Linked DNA regions of Homo sapiens: region 2 is linked to region 1. A link means that fine-mapping ties the variant in region 1 to the expression of a gene that starts in the linked region. Tissue or cell type: prefrontal cortex. Region 1 holds a variant in brackets; the other region holds the start of a gene. All regions are shown on one strand. Distances are from middle to middle.

The links. PIP is the estimated chance that this variant, and not a neighbour inherited with it, causes the effect.
Region 2: it holds the start of LINC02700, and the variant in region 1 is fine-mapped to the expression of LINC02700 in prefrontal cortex (CommonMind, PIP 0.95).

What each region holds. Positions count from the first base shown.
Region 1 is chr11:94,736,633-94,744,738 of GRCh38, forward strand. PIWIL4-AS1 (PIWIL4 antisense RNA 1) reads right to left here and starts at 3,723. Exons shown (of 5, transcript NR_135093.1): 1 at 3,586-3,723. It also overlaps a transcript of AMOTL1 not described here. The variant C/T (reference allele first, on the strand shown) is at 3,619.
Region 2 is chr11:94,634,116-94,642,221 of GRCh38, forward strand. LINC02700 (long intergenic non-protein coding RNA 2700) reads left to right here and starts at 3,928. Exons shown (of 6, transcript NR_187352.1): 1 at 3,928-4,238. All of the region lies in intron 4 of PIWIL4-AS1 (PIWIL4 antisense RNA 1), which reads right to left. RefSeq lists an enhancer at 5,900-6,399.

The DNA.
Region 1 (8,106 bases):
CTAACAATCCAGTGAGGTATGTATTATTGTTAGGAAACTGAAAATGCCTGCCACCCAATATTCACAGAGCTGAGATGCAAATCCGTAAACTTGTGCACTGTTTATTATAACTCAGTGACACTCCAGCAGAACCATTTCTTTATAAGAGACCTATAAAAGTCAAGTGTGGGTAGGCACTTTGGACATTGCCCTGAGATTCAATAAGGTCTGTCATGGAATCCCTTATTAGAAGGGCACTGATCATCTCTGTGTCTGCAGTGCCTTGCACAGCGCTGGAAGCATGGTAAATTCCCAATAAATGTTTGTTTAATTAATATGAAACATTATTGTTGGCTCTATTCTACTTCCTAAGATAGAAAATTGGAATCATTGACTTTAGAGAATTTTCAACAGCAAATACTGAAACAAGAGAAATGTTTTCTCATTAACCCTCAGTTGATTAGGAAATTCAAATAACTAAAATGTTGTAAGGATAGTTCCTAGTTTACAAGTCATCCATTTATATGAACAAATTGAAGGCAAGTCCATTGTGAGAACAGTTTGGCAGGCTCCAGAACCTAATCACCCTGTGGAGCACTGGCAACGCTCTTCATAGGGGTAAACCTGTTGCCAGCTCCAAGTAACCAGCCTTCAAGCCAACTCTTGGAATGCAAACTAAAAGTTGGAGACAACGAACATTCCTCTAATGTAAACATACTCTGTGGTTAATATCTTCTTTTAGTAACTCAAAATTGTTAAGGGATAAAAAGAGTCCATTTGTGTCAGCTGTAAAGGAGCATGGCATCCAATAATAACTAATGTTTATTTGACTTTTACAGTGTGACACTCTCTCTCCTAGGGGCTCCAAGTGCATTAGTTTATTGCACTCTCACCACATTGGTATGCTAGGTATGATTATTATCTCCATGTTTACACAAAGCTAAGGCTGAAAGAAATTAAGTTACTAGCTAGTATTGGAACAGGTATTAGAACCCAGGTCTGGCTGATCCCAAGGCCTTCTATAGGTCACCTCTCTTGAGACACAAATGTTATTTGCTTGATTCTATGGGAAACCAGAGGAGACTGATTCTGCAGACAGCCCATCTGAGCCCATCCACTCATAAGATCAGCAGGTCAAAACCTGCTGTTAGGATCTAGGACTGATAATTGGAATTGGCAATGGCAAAGCCATTCTTGACCTTGACAAGAGCTACTCTGGCAGAGTGAGGTAGAAACCTATTTAGGCTGCTTGTAAGAGCAAAATGGAGAATGGGTGCTATCAGTGTAGACAATTATTTTAATGAATTTTGTTGTAAAGGGGAGATGAGAATTGGAGTAATGGCTGGAGATACATAGAGTCAAGAAAGGATTTTTAAAAAGACAGGATCATAGTAGTATGTCTGTATACTGACAGGAGTGATCAAGGACAGAAGAAAATATTAATCCAGGTGGGAAGAGGGAAAAGCCACATAAATGGGATCTGATCCATACAGGAGGCCATAATGGCCTTAGATGATTCATCCATAGCAACAAGAGAGCGGGAGAGTAAATAAACAGGCAAATGCAGAGTGATTGCTGGGCTGCACTAGCTCCATTTGATTTTAGTGGACATGAATCGAAAATAAGACCAGAGAGCATAATTTTGTGCTTTTTTTTTTTTTTTTGAGACGGAGTCTTGCTCTGTCACCCAGGCTGGACTGCAATGGCGTGATCTCTGCTCACTGCAACCTCCACCTCCTGGTATCAAGCGATTCTCCTGCCTCAGCCTCCTGAGTAGCTGGGATTACAGACATGTGCCACCACACTTGGCTAATTTTTGTATTTTTACTAGAGATGGGTTTTCACCATGTTGGCCAGGCTGGTCTCAAATTCAGGACCTCAGGTGATCCACCCACCTCAGCCTCCCAGAGTGCTGGAAATATAGATGTGAGCCACCATGCCCAGCCAATTTTGTGCTTCTTCAATCATGTTTAGCTGGGTGTAGATGGAAAGAAGGTGGAGAGTTATATTTTACTAGGGTTGTGTTTTCACCAGGTAAATAGCATGGAAAGAGAGCAGAACATGGATTTGAAGGTGTAAGTAAGAGAGAAATAATAATGAAACTGGAAACTAAAGTCCATAAGGAAGGAAGGAGGGTCATGAGGAGAGTGAGGGGCAGAGAAAAGGTCATGGATAAGTAAATTATAGATGCTGGTGGGGTCAAGGACACATTGGATTAAAATAACAGAGGGGATAAGCTGGAAAGGTAGGAGAGTGGATTACTTCACCTTGATATTATGCATGGTGTCGCTATGACAGCAGGGGGCTGGTGTGGTTGGAGCAGGTCAAGAAAGGGATAAGATGCAGAAGAGTTGAGAGATCAGAGTGTGACTATGTAGATGGAGAAAAATAAGAATAATCACAGGAATGATACTGGGAAAAGTGACAGTGAATCAGATGCCATTATCTTCAAGAAATGAGGTAGAACAACCAGAGGATCCATAGATGGCTGAAATAAGTAGAGGAGGCAAGTAATGCAGCCTGTTATTTTCAAGGAAAGCCAGGTATGGGTCAGAGCACAACACTGAAAGAAACATTCAGAGAGGAGGCTGAGGATATATAGATTTTGCTAGCGATGAACCATGAGTTCCAGAGGACAAATGGGAGGATTCTAGGAGTTGGGAGGGGATGGAGTGATGAGTGCAAACCCTCACCCAAACATATTTAATTCCTGGATTTGGGAGCTCAGATTATAAGAAGCAGGAAAAAGAAGAGGTTGGAGAGATAGGCTCAGCAGCTCAAGAATGCTGCCTTGCTTGGGGAGGACAGCCCCACCCCTGCTTCCCTGGGCTCCCTAAGCAATGCTGGCCGAAGGGGCTTTCTGTCCTTCATGGTGATTTGTAAACCAAAAACTGACAGTGGAAAAGCCAGAGATGGCTGAGTGTTTACAGGATGAGAGCACATTGGCTCAGATCGGGGCCCTTAGGCTGCTGCAGCTGGTGCTCTGATCACTTTGAGACAATAGAAGGCCCCCAGGAGGCTGCCCAGACTGTTGACCCTCCAATAGTCCTCCAAGGATGGAGAAAGGACAACCATTTCCATACTTGTTCCTTCCTTCCCACTGACCCTGTTATGGGCCATCAGCTGCGGGGCTCTCTCTGGAGCACACCCCAAGTCCAGCACCCTCGCCCCCTTAATGCAGAGCAGTCACAGTCAGTCCTGGGGGCTGGGGGGAGATACATAACACATCTGTCCAAGTTATCAGGCTACTGACTCAGAGGGGGAGGTTCTCACAGTGTTACATTAATTATTTTAGAATTTACAGTTCTCAGAGCATAACCATTGCTTCTACATTCTGTATTTGAAAGCAGTCAATCTTTTATAGAGTAGAAGGAGCACTGCTCTTCTCTCCTCCCCCACTTCTCCCTCACATACCCCTACCATAATGATGTCACGCATAAATTAACAACTTCTCAGCCTCGGTTTCCCAACCTGTGCAATGCAGCTCATATTACTTTGCCCACTTGAGCCAGGTGATCTCTTGAAGAGTAGGAAATAATGTTGGACTGGAGTTGGAATTCTGGTTCCAAAAGGAGGGGATTGGGGGGCATTTGGGTCTCCTCCTACCTTTCTGCAAGCTCTGAAAATCGTCCATCTCCT[C/T]AGGAGAAGCCCACAGAACAAACGATTTCCCAAGCATCAGAGGAGGGCAGACATAACATAACAGAGCAGGGAATCGGGTTAGAACGGGTTATGCTCTGATTTTTTGGAAAATGGGCAAACGGGGCGGGGACTAGGGAGGATTCCGCCAGCCGGGAGTTGGGAGGCCGCGCGCGCCTCTGCGGAGCGTGACGGCCACGGTCGCCTAGCAACGAGCGGGGATGCGCGGGGCGCCTGGGTGGGCGAGGGGTGCTCGCCGCCGCCGCCGCGCGCCCTCGGGCCCCCGGGACCGCGGGAAAACTTCGCGGCTCCTCGGCGCTGGGGCGTCGGCGCCAGGCCCGGCAGACAGAGCAATGCGCCCCGCGGGCTGAGGGCAGAGGATGCGGCCGCGGCCCAGCGCCCGGCCGGGGGAGCCGCGGGGTGGCACGCGGGGAAAGTTGGCGCGCGCCTGACCGCGCCTGGAAGCCGCGCGGTGCCAGGGCCGAGTTGTCCCCCAAGTTTCTGCGGCGATTTGTCACTCCCTGGGGATCTGGCGGTCTGAATCCCGCGGGGCCTCCGGCTCAGGGATTCTGAGCGCTGGGAGAGAGAAGCCCGCGCTTTTCCCGGGGACCTGCGCTTGAGCTGGTGCTTGTGCGGGTTCGTCCTGAATGGTAGCGATTCGAGTTGTTTTCTGCTTTTCTTCTCCCCCAGACAGTGAGTTTGTGGAAGCCTCGCCCGCATCCTACAGCCCAGACGAGTTAGGTAAGTCTGCTCATTTTGTCTTTTATTTCTTGGTCGCAATTCTGCCCGAGAACTGCGAGTTTGGGGGGCGTCCATAGGAACTCAGCTAGGGATGGGGCTGGGGTTGGAGGGCGGAGGGAAAGGGTCAGGGGACACCTGCTGCCTTCGCGGCCGGAACCGGCCTTTCCTCGGCGCTGTGCTTTCGGGGGTGGCAGGGCAAGTGTCCAATGAGCCGTGCGTGTGTGTGTGTGTGCGTGCGTGTGCGTGTGTGTGTGTGTGAGTGCGTGTGTGTGCGTGTTCGTCTGGGGCAGTGGTGCTGCTCCGAGGAGCCTGGCACAGCAAACTTCCAGAGCTGGGGCTTCTGAAACCTGCGCTCATCTTGCCGGGAGGACACAGCGGCGACTGGTTCTGACTTGCCAAGTACCTGGCACGAGAAGGACGTCGTGTGGGTCGTCCTTACCCTGAATTTAATGAAGTCAGGGGCTGAAAACGGCGGTGTAATCATTAAACTGTAAGACCTAGGAGCTGCTTCCCTCCCTGATTTCTATTCCTCAGTTAGCCTGTAGGTGTCTCGAGATAGGACATTCCATCCTCATGCCTGTCATGGTAAGTGGAGATTTGCGATGGGTGAACCGGGACACTCTTGTCAAGAGACAGGCTGAAGAGAGAGTGAAGAGAAGGAAATGCGAATGGGCAGGATCTCTCTAACTCTTCCTGCCACCCATTCTCACTCGGTGGCTTAGTGGCTCTCTTTTTTTTTTCTTCTGCTTTCAAGGTTAGTTTAGCTGCTACTGGTCTGGGCTATCAAGTCTCTCCTTACTGTTCTTTCATCACTAGCCTGAATATCTTGCCTTCCTAAGATGAAATGAAAGGATTTATTTTATGATATATGTTGACAGTAAAGGAGGAGGGGAACTGTCCACAAACAGCGGTTTAAATATGTTTATCCTCAGTAACACACTCAGCTGTGGCACCCTGTCCCTGGTCAGCTTCTTGTGCTGGGAAGAATGTCCTCATCAAGTCCCACAGGACCTGAAGCAAAATTCCACCTCAACAACGACTTTCATTCATTTCTAGGAGCCAAGCGCCCAAAATAGATCTGGATCAAGGTTGGCATTCTGTGGCTGGGAGGAGTACCATGTTTTATTCAGAGGATGTGTTTCTGACAAGTTGCGAGGCAATCACATCTCTATCAGTGGAATTGTAGACTAAATGCATGAGCAAAACTAGCTTTTAAGACATACTGTGGTGAATCATTTTATGAAATGAAAGTGACATCTAAACCATAGCTTTTCATGATGTGATTTATTAAGAGGACAGGTACTCGATGATCTGCTCCACGCATGTATAATTGTATGTTAATGACACCAGCATTGACACTCCACAGTGCGACGAAGCCATTTGGTCCTCTTAAATTGTACATAAACATAAGCAATGGTAGGATGAGCATTGCTTGCTCTGGGAAATCAGACTGTATAACTACTAAATTGTTTGCCTTCACAGAATGATTTGTGCTTCAGGAAGGCCCAGGTATTTGACCCTTTTTCATCTCCATATCTCCCTCTGGGACTTACAGACTGGACTGCCCCCATGAGGCACTGATAAATATGAGTATCCTTTCAAATTAGCAGTAGAAAATAAAAAACAATGTTTTTTTCTCTTCAGCTCCCCTATGGTAAAAGCCCAGTTTCTCATGAGGAGATTAGAGTGTGTGTCTTAGTCCATTTGTGTTGTTATATCAAAAACAGATTGGGTAGTTTGTAAACAGCAGAAATTTATTTCTCACAAGTTCTGGAGGCTGGGAATTCTAAGATCAAGAAACTGGCAGGTTCAGTGTCTGGTGAGGGCCTGCTTCCTGGTTCATAGATGTCTATCTTCTCACTGTGTCCTCAACATGGCAGAAAAGGGCCAGGGAGCTCTTGCGGTCTCTTTTCTAAGTGCCCTAATCCCTCTGGTGAGAGCTCCACCCTTATGACCTAATCACTTCCCAAAGGCCTCACCTCCAAATACCATCACATTGAGGATTAGGTTTCAATACATGAATTTTGAGGGGATATAAATATTCAGTCTATAGCAGCGTGATGGGAACCATGGGGTTCCCTTCTGGGATCTGGGCTTGCAGGGTGATAGAGAAAATAAAACAGAAGCCTGAGAGTTTGAGATCAAGGTTCTAGCTTTCACCCTGCTCCAGCTTCTTTAATAGACATGTTAACTAGCCTCAGTTTCCTTATCTGCAAAAAGCGGGGGTTGTGCCCGGGGATCCCTAAGGCGTCTTCCAGTTCTATTTTCACCTCTTAAAGTGCTGTGAGGGGCTGTAAGCCAAAGGAGGCCTATAGCCATTGGGTATTCATTGTTTATATTCATGTGCTGTGCTGTTTGGGTACTTGGTGTCCCCAAGGGTTATTCTCTCCATGACAGGGCAGCTCTCTGGATCAGACTGCCTTGTTTTCATGCTATTCAGGTCAAAGACGGAGCTGTCATTTCTCCCTTGGAAAGAGTCATGGTGGTTTTTTGGTGCTTTTCTTAGACACACAGCAGGAAAAATGCCTTTTACAGCAGTTGATGAGCTTGTCAAGCAGCCATTCTTTCGGGAGCACAGATGAGCACAGGTTCACTCCTGGCCGGAATATAAGAAGAAGCAGAGCAAAGTTAAAAGAAAATTATTTCTCTACTCACAATACTTCTTTTTTTTTTTTTTTTTTTTTTTTTGTGACGGTGTCTCGCTCTGTCGCCCAGATGGGAGTGCAATGGCATGATCTCGGCTTACTGCAACCTCTGTCTCCTGGGTTCAACCTATTCTCCTGCCTCAGCCTCCCAACTAGCTGGGATTACAGGTGCCCGCCACCATGCCCAGCTAATTTTTGGAAATTTAGTAGAGACAGGGTTTTGCCATGTTAGCCAGGCTGGTCTCGAACTCCTGACCTCTGGTGATCTGCCCTCTTCTGTCGGCCTCCCAAAGTGCTAGGATTACAGGCGTGAGCCACTGTGCCTGGCCTGTACTCACAATACTTCTGACACCCAATGTGTGGGTTTTCCACACCAAGTAATTCTTAAATATTTTGCAGCCACCAACCAGATGTCCTAGAATTTAATTAAATTTTACCACTACCCAGAGTTAGCACAGGCCCTATAGGTTAAGAGCTCAGTCCTGCAAGACTATCTACCACTTCAGATATCAACGGCAAGTGGTGGGTCCACATATTACCCACACTTATGTCTAACTTGGCTACAAATCAGGGCTTCCTACAACCTTCTTTTGGTTTCTATAATTTACTTTAATAGCTTAGAGAACTCAGGGAAGCACTATGCTTATGTTTACCAGGTTATTTTAAAGGATATAAATGAACAGCTGGATGAGGAGATGCAAAAGGTGAAGTCTGGAAGGGTCCAAAGCACAGGAGCTTCTGTCCTTTTAGAGTTGGGGTGCACCACCCTCCTGGCACATGGATAGGTTCACTAAGTCAGAAACTCTCCATACCTCCTCATTTAGGGTTTTTATGGATGTTCCATTAGGCATGATTGATTGAATCATTGGCCATGGGTGATTAACTCAATCCCCAGTCCCTTTCCCCTCCCCAGAGGTCAGGTATGTGTGTGGCAGGGTGGAGGGGTAGTAGGTGGGGAAGTGGGGAGAATAGGTCGGTGGGCTGGAAATTCCAACTTTTTTTTTCCTCAATGTAATTTTTGTTAATGTATATCTGTAAGCACTATTTATTTCTGCACCTACAATGGTTCCTGGATTCTAAACAGTCATGGAGTTTAAATTTGTAA
Region 2 (8,106 bases), 100 kb before region 1:
CTGGGATAGCTAGGTTTCATATAGAAAGAAAATTAGACTCCTAGCTCACATGAAAAACAAAAAGAGACTTCATGTAGCTTAAAGAAAACATGAAAAAGAATTGCAACAACTAGAAGAAAATATAGGGAATATCTTTAAGATATTAAAGTAGGGGAAAATTTCTTAAGCAATATAGAAAAAGTATAAATTATACAGGAAAAGACTGATGACTTTGTCAAAATGTAAACTTCTGAATGACAAATGAGACAGTAGTAATGCTAAAAGACAAACTGTAGGCTAAAACAGTATATGTGTAACATACACAACAAGAAAAGGATGATTAACCCAAATATGCAAAAACAAAAAAAGTTTAAGTTAGTAAGAAAAACAGACAAAAACACCCAGTAGAAAAAAGGGCCCAAGAGCAATTCACTAACAAATATCTAAGATGATACTCAACTTCACCAGTAGTAATAAGGAAAATTAAAAATAAAACACCAATGAGATTTAATTTCACTCTTATACATTCGGAAAAAATTAAACTATCTGTCAGTAATAACTGTTGTTGAGAATGCAGAGAAACAAACTCTTAAACATTGCTGCTAGGAGCATGAACCGGTTCAATCATATCTGGAAGCCCATATCCTACAAACCAGCAATTCTACCTTGAGGTTTATACTTCAGAGAATTTCTTGCACCTGTCTATAAGAAGAAAATGGATAAACTATACTGTAGGCATACTACAGAATACCATATAGCAATGAAAAGAAATTAACTGGCTCAGACTATGTAGATCTACATGAATAGTTATCAAAAAAAAAAAAAGGTTAAGTGAAAAAAAATCAAGTTAAAGAATGATGGGTACATCATGCTGTCACTGAAACCAAATGGGGTCTGTTTGCCCATGTGCAGTGGAAAGCCAACACCGAAGCACTGGGTTTTTGCTGTGAGAAAGGTTAATCGCAAGTCCACTGGCCACATGAGAGGAGGAAATGCTCAAATGTCTCCCTGAGCTGGGGGTGGGTCAGATTTTAAAATGGGTAATAAGGCATGATCTGATTGGATCTGGCAGTGAGGTGAGGCCAGGACGCATGCTCTGGCTGGATCCTGCCATGCTGTGTCTGCTGCTTCTTAATTCAGTCCTGCTCCTTCATCCCAGCACTTAGGTTCCCCTTGTGGTTGCACATTTGGTTCATCTGGGCATGCTCAGATTATGTGCCCTTTAACCTGGGGGTCCATGGCAACTGAAAAACAACTCACAACTTTGTCACATAAAAGTTGAACCAGTTGGTCTGATGTGCTTACAATGTCATTCATAGACAAGAATTAACATACATGTAAATACCACATATTTCCCTGGTTTTATAGGCGTGTGTGTACATACATATAAAAGGAAAAAGTGGAAATGGAAGATTGCACACTAAATTCATGACAGTGGTTACATCTATGAGGCAGGGAGGGTTGTGAATTATAGGTAAGGATGCTCAATAAAGGGAATTTGACTATAATTCTATTAGTTTTCTTAAAAAATGAAACAAATACAAAAATGATAACAACTGTCAATTCTGGGTTGATGATATTTGCATCTTTGTCTTATTTTTTTTTTCTGTAATTTAAAAGTTTACCAAACTTAAAATTATAATTAAAACAAAAGCAGACAACTCCAATCTAACCATGAGAAAAATATCAGAAAAATATCCGTTTAAGGAAAGTCTACAAAACACTTGTCGAGGTCAAGAAAGACAAGAAAAGACTGAGAAACTGTCACAGCCAAGATAGGCCTAAGGAGACATGGTAATTAAATATAATATATCTTGGATCCGATCTTGGAATAGAAAAAGAGCAATGAATAATAATTAAGGAAATCTGAATGAGGTATGGATTTTTGATAACAGTAACATATAAATATTAGTACATTAACTGTTACAAAGGCAGTGTACTAATATAAGACAATAATAGGGAAAACTGGGTGTAGGGTATATGTGAACACTTTGTCCTATCTTGGCAACTTTTCTTTAAATCTAAAATTATTGTAAGATAAAAAAGTATGTAAAAAACGGAATAGGTATAGTATTCTTCCAGTTTCGTGTGAGTGTGTGTGAGTGTACACAAAAAGACAAGCAGAATATTTATCAAAAATATCAATGATTAGGTCTACATGGTGGAAGTATGGGTAGCTTTCCTTTCTCTTTCATTCTTTTATTTTTCAAATTCCTGCCTTCTAATATAAGTCAAATGTGATATACTGATAGTTTTAGCTATCAGAAACATTATCAAGACCTTGGCACCGTTTCTATCAGCACATGGTAATTATGGGCCCCATTCTCCTAACACTCACTTCCTATATTTGCCCGGGATGCTTGCTAAAACTGAGTTCTATACTAAGAATTTCCAGGGAAGAAACTTGAGAATTTATTTTTTAACAAGTCCCTAGGTGATTTTTGTGTGTGTTTGTGTCTGGTGGCTGTTCAGATAAGTTTAGGAAACTGACTCAGCTAATTCTCACTTAAAGCTCAGCTCAGTGTCAGCTCTGCTGTCAAAACTTCTCTGTCCATCTCAGGCACTTAGAATCTCCCTTCCCTGTATCCTCCCTGTACCACACACACAACTCCATTCCTGCCCTTCTAACAGTGCAGCATAGTTTTTTCTACATTTTTCTCTCTGGCTGTTTTGCATATCTTTGTGATCTCATCGAACAATAGCATCTGGTAGGCCCTCAATATCCATTATTTAGATAAATGCATGGAAGCTTAGATAGTCAGATGGGCTGCTTTTAAATAAATGGGGTGATTCTAAGAATTTCATCAGCATCTATCTTCAAGCCCCTCAATAATGGCATCCCTGGTTGCTTTACAATAGGTGGGATCAGCCTCTTTTATTATCTCTTTAGAAGGAAGCATGGGAATATTCAATTTATTCCAAAATATATTGCTTTACGCTTGGATAATGGTCAGAAAAACTGGAAGTATGAATATATATTTGAATCATCTGGGAATCTATTGAAACCCAAACTTGCATTTGATGAGTAGTGCTTACCCTGGGCCAGGCCACTCAGTGCTTGAGCTGTGCTATCTAAGATGGAGGCTCTAATCACATGTGGCCTTTGAAGGCTACATTTAAAGTAATTGAAATCAATCCAGTTCCTCAGTCATACATTTCAAGTACTCAAAGGCCACACGTAGCAGCCACTGTATTGGAAAGTGAAGACATAGAACATTTCCATCATCACAGAAAGTTCTATAGGAGAGTGCTGACCTAGATGATTCCTCTTTATACTTCGAATCAGATAGTTCTCTTATTTAAGGCTTCCCTCATCCCTCCAAGCCATATTCTGTTTGGTTCGCAGTGACAGAAATGTCCTGGGCACCAGGGATTCAGAGATGAAGAAAATGTCATTGCTGCCCTGGAACAGCTTAAAGCAGGGACTCTCAACTGGGGCGATTTTGCTGCCTAGGGGACATTTGGCAGAGACTTTGTATTGCCATTAATAGTGTGGGGGGTATGTGTGTGTCTGTGTTCATGTGTGTGTTGTGTGTGTCTGTGTCATATGTGTGTATGTGTGTGTGTGTATTACTGGCAGACAGAGGGCAGCGATCCTGGGTAGAGGGCAGAGATGATGCTAAGCATTCTACAACGCACAAGACGGCTCCCCCTCCCTACCATCAAAAATTTGGCCCAAAATGTCAATAATGCCAAAGCTGAGAAACCCTGGCTTGAAGCCTTGTTGGGGAGAGAGACACAGGAGCACAAAGTACCAATGTCATGTGGAAAGTGAGCAGAGAGTGGTAGAGCACAGCCGTCGGACTGGGAGGATTCCCAAGCTGAGTCTGGAAGGAGCTGCATGCCTAGTCATTCCTTCTATGATCTAATAATGCTTTGCCCATTCCCCTCTGCAACACCTAACACTGTGATGTATTTTAACCATCAGTTTACACATACTTCTCTCCTGTGAGACTGTGAATTCTTCAAAAGCAGGTACTGTGTTTAATGAAGTGTGCCCAGGACTTTGCTCAGTGACTGGATGACACAGTAGGAGTAACAAGAAAGTTCACATGGGTGAACCGTGGTAGGTGGACATCGTCTCTCTCACCTCTTCCCAAATCAAGGATGAAGTACATCTTCATAAATCCTCATGTGAATTATTTTGCTACCTCTAGAAGCATTTTCTAAAACAAGGTGCAGCAATCAGTTGAGTGAATTTGTCACCAGAGCTTATGTTTTCTGAAAGAACCCTATCCTCAGGCAGTTGTTCCTAAGAGGTGAGTTGTGGATTTAGTTCACATACCTTCCTTCGTGGCTTAAAATGCTCCACATGCCTGTCTCCCCAACAGCATCAGATCACCATGCAGTAAAATACCAAGTCAGAACAGCCAATGCTGAAAAGAGTGACAGTTTCCTTTCATGATGCAATGCACTTGGAGCCAGGGGACAGGGAGACAATAACTGCAAGGAGAAGTGATGACAACCCTACTTTAATATAGTAGTTCCTTTTGAATTTTATAGACTTACCCGTTAATCTCTAGAATTTTGAAAAAATTCCTTAAGTGATGTGAGCAAATAACACTTTGCCTTGGGTTAGCCTTTTCCTTTCCCTTGAAGATTCCACAAATATGTCAGCGCTGGAAATGATCCTTTGGCTTTGAACTATGTGAAGACTGCAGAAGGACTGGTTGGTAAGCACCCACATCCTGGGGTGAGAATCACATCCAGTTTATACCTCCCTGTGCACACTTGTATAAAACAACTATAAGACACACGAGAGATCTGGAAGCCAGTTCCTCATAAGTAAGAATTGGTAAGAGCTCTTAAGCAGCATGTCTGAGGTTTAATAACTCGCCCTGTCTGGAGCCTTTTGTGTGTCTCACTTTCTTCTTAGCAAAACATGAGCATTACACTCTGTGCTGGAAGATTCCCTTCCTTCTTCCGGGCTTTTGATTACCCAATCCTTCTTTACTTTCACTTCTTGCTCAAAGCAGCTCTTTCTCAGCCATTTCTAAAAAAGGTTTATGAGATGCTGCAGGGCTGTGTCTCTAAATTGGGCCCTGTGTGCCTATATCCTCATTCTCTGCAGCTGCTGAATTCTTTCTGTGGGATCAGCCTTCTTCTAAGTGCTGGGGTGATGGGAACATAGCTGTAAACTGATTTTGACAGGAAGCATCACTTCCGGCTGGAAACAAGTCCCTGGTTTATGCAGCACATAGTACTAACTGTGGAACACTGTTAAACATGTCTCATTCCGCCCCCTCCACCAGCAAAAGGCCTTGCTGCTCAGTTGTGCACCAGATGATGTGGCATATGCACATACTGGCCACTAATGACAAAGCCTGACACCATGCAGTGGACATCTCTTGGGACCTCAGCCTCTTTCTCCTGGAACTGACCCCATCCTCCCTTCGCTACATGATCACCATGGGTGGATTCCCAGCAGCCATGCTTGTAACATGCATCCTGTCCTCTCTGGCCACAGACAACTACAATACAGATGAGCAGCCCACCCAAGATTCCTTCTCTAAGAATTTAGAACTGGGAATGGAGGAGAGAAAGAGAGAGATACTGATTCTACCAGAGACAATGGGATGAGATAGCATGGTTGTTGGAACCATGGCTGGAACTGTAAAGCACAAATTGGACAGCAGATAAAGTTGGTTCACAGAGAGAGAGAGAATGATGAAGCCATAGGGATCCAAGTTTCCCTATGGCTTTCCTCACCCTAACTCCTGTCCTTCCACAGGTCAGGCTGCATTTGTATCCTGGGTCCACAAGACATCGTTTCCTTAAAACCAATCCCCCTGATTTTGCTAAGGTGAGTCGGAACAAGTTGATTTCTGTTACACACACAAACACACACCCCACATGAGACAGCCAGGTAGGAAGTGCTCCCTGGCAGAGCCTCCCTGACCTGCACACTGGGAGGAATGCACGCTGGGGTGGAGCCTTGGGAGGTTCGCGTGGTTTGCAGTGGGGAGGAGCCTGCCGCCCTCTTCCTGGGTGGAACCTGGGATTCAGTTCGCCAGGCAGGAAGTGCAGTAGCAGGACTCTGGCTTTCCGGAGAGTCTCTGTTTTTCCTTTTTTTTTTTCCCTTTTCGCCCAATAAATACCATTTTTCTCACCCTTCAAAGTGTCTGCAAGCCTAATATTTCATGGATGTTTGACAAGGACCCCGTCTTTAGCTGAACTAAGGAGAAAGTCCTGCAACACACACATGGAGCTCAGCAAACGGAGGATGTAGTAGGTAGAATTTTTAAATGGCCTCTATGATTTCTTTGCCTGGTATCCACATCTTTGTGTCATCCTCTCCCCTTCAGTTGTGGGAGGGATGTATAACTTGCTTCTGAAAAGTAGAATATAGTAAAGGTGAAGAAATCCTGCAGTTGAGGTGAAGTTAATGAAAAGGGAGATAATCCTGGGTGGGCCTGACCTAATCAGGTGAGTTCCTGGAGAATGTCAAGTAAGAAGCCTAGAGTCAGAGACTCACTCTTTCCTGTTAGCCTTGAAGAGGCAAGATGCTTCAGTTCTACAGCTGCAAGGAAATCAATTCTGACAACAACCACGTGTGCTTGGAAGACCACCACCACCATCACCACCACCACCACCCCCCGCCCCGCCCCTGCCCCTCTGAGCCTCAGATGGGACGCTAGACCCTCCCTGATTATAGTCTGCGAGACACTGAACCTGGACTCCTGGTCTATGGGAGCTGTTTTAAGTTTTAAGCTGTTAATTTTTGGTAATTAGTTATGCAGCAAATGGCTGTGTTGTTATTCCCATCCCCCTCTTCCCACCTGTCTCCTTTAAATAAAAACCAGCATTTCAGGTCTGAACTGTCATGACTCCAATCTGCTTGTCAAGATGGACTCTAAGTAGAGTCAGGTGAAGAGGCCAGGTTAGCTATATTCCTTCTTATTTTCCATCCTTCAGTCATGGCCTGAGCCTTTTCCTTCCCTGAAATCTAATGAGAATCACTCCTCAGCTGATTATCATGGACTCGATGGCTTGTCATTAAGAATACCTCAGCCACAGGCAGCAGTGAGAAGAGAAGTGAAGGAGGAGGGGTGTTTAGGAAATGCCTGGTCCTGAGGGCGGAAGCAGTTTTGAAGTTGCACCTGCTCTGACAGAAAACTCGAGTGTAAGACTTACTGATGTCATTCTCCTCAGTTCTTCATGGACGTAGGACTGTCATGGGGAAATTAGGCAAAGATTCTGCTTTGGCAGGAAGAACTATGGCTCCCTGCCCACATCCCTTCGTTCAGCTCCCTCCCCCATTGGCCAGAATACACCAAGTTGTCAGCACCAGCCGGCCCGTGGCTATTCAGAATGTCTCTGGAAACCATGAAGGCTAGGAGGCATGAGATCTGGGTGCTGGGGCTGGTGAGTCCTCTAGTAACCAACCCAACTGTAAAGAAGTAATAATATATGGCATCTGCATAATGGTCTACGGCTTCCAACTTGCTTTAAGCTCTATTTATCCTTTGGGTCTCTCATCAGCCCTGGAAGAAAAGCAGTTGTCTTTGTCAGGCCTCTGAGCCCAAGCTGAGCCATCATGTCCCCTGTGACCTGCACGTACACATCCAGATGGTGGGTTCCTGCCTTAACTGATGACATTCCACCACAAAAAAAGTGAAAATGGCCTGTTCCTGCCTTAACTGATGACATTGTCTTGTGAAATTCCTTCTCCTGGCTCATCCTGGCTCAAAAGCTCCCCCACTGAGTACCTTGTGACCCCCACTCCTGCCCGCCAGAGAACAACCCCCTTTGACTGTAATTTTCCTTTACCTACCCAAATCTTATAAAACGGCCCCACCCCTATCTGCCTTTGCTGACTCTCTTTTCGGACTCAGCCCGCGTGCACCCAGGTGATTAAAAGCTTTATTGCTCACACAAAGCCTGTTTGGTGGTCTCTTTACACAGACGCACATGAAATTTGGTGCTGTGACTCGGATTGGGGGACCTCCCTTGGGAGATCAATCCCCTGTCCTCCTGTTCTTTGCTCCATGGGAAAGATCCACCTACGACCTCAGGTCCTCAGACCGACCAGCCCAAGGAACATCTCACCAATTTTAAATCGGGTAAGCGGCCTCTTCTTACTCTCTTCTCCAAGCTCTCTCACTGTCCCTCAACCACTTTCTCCTT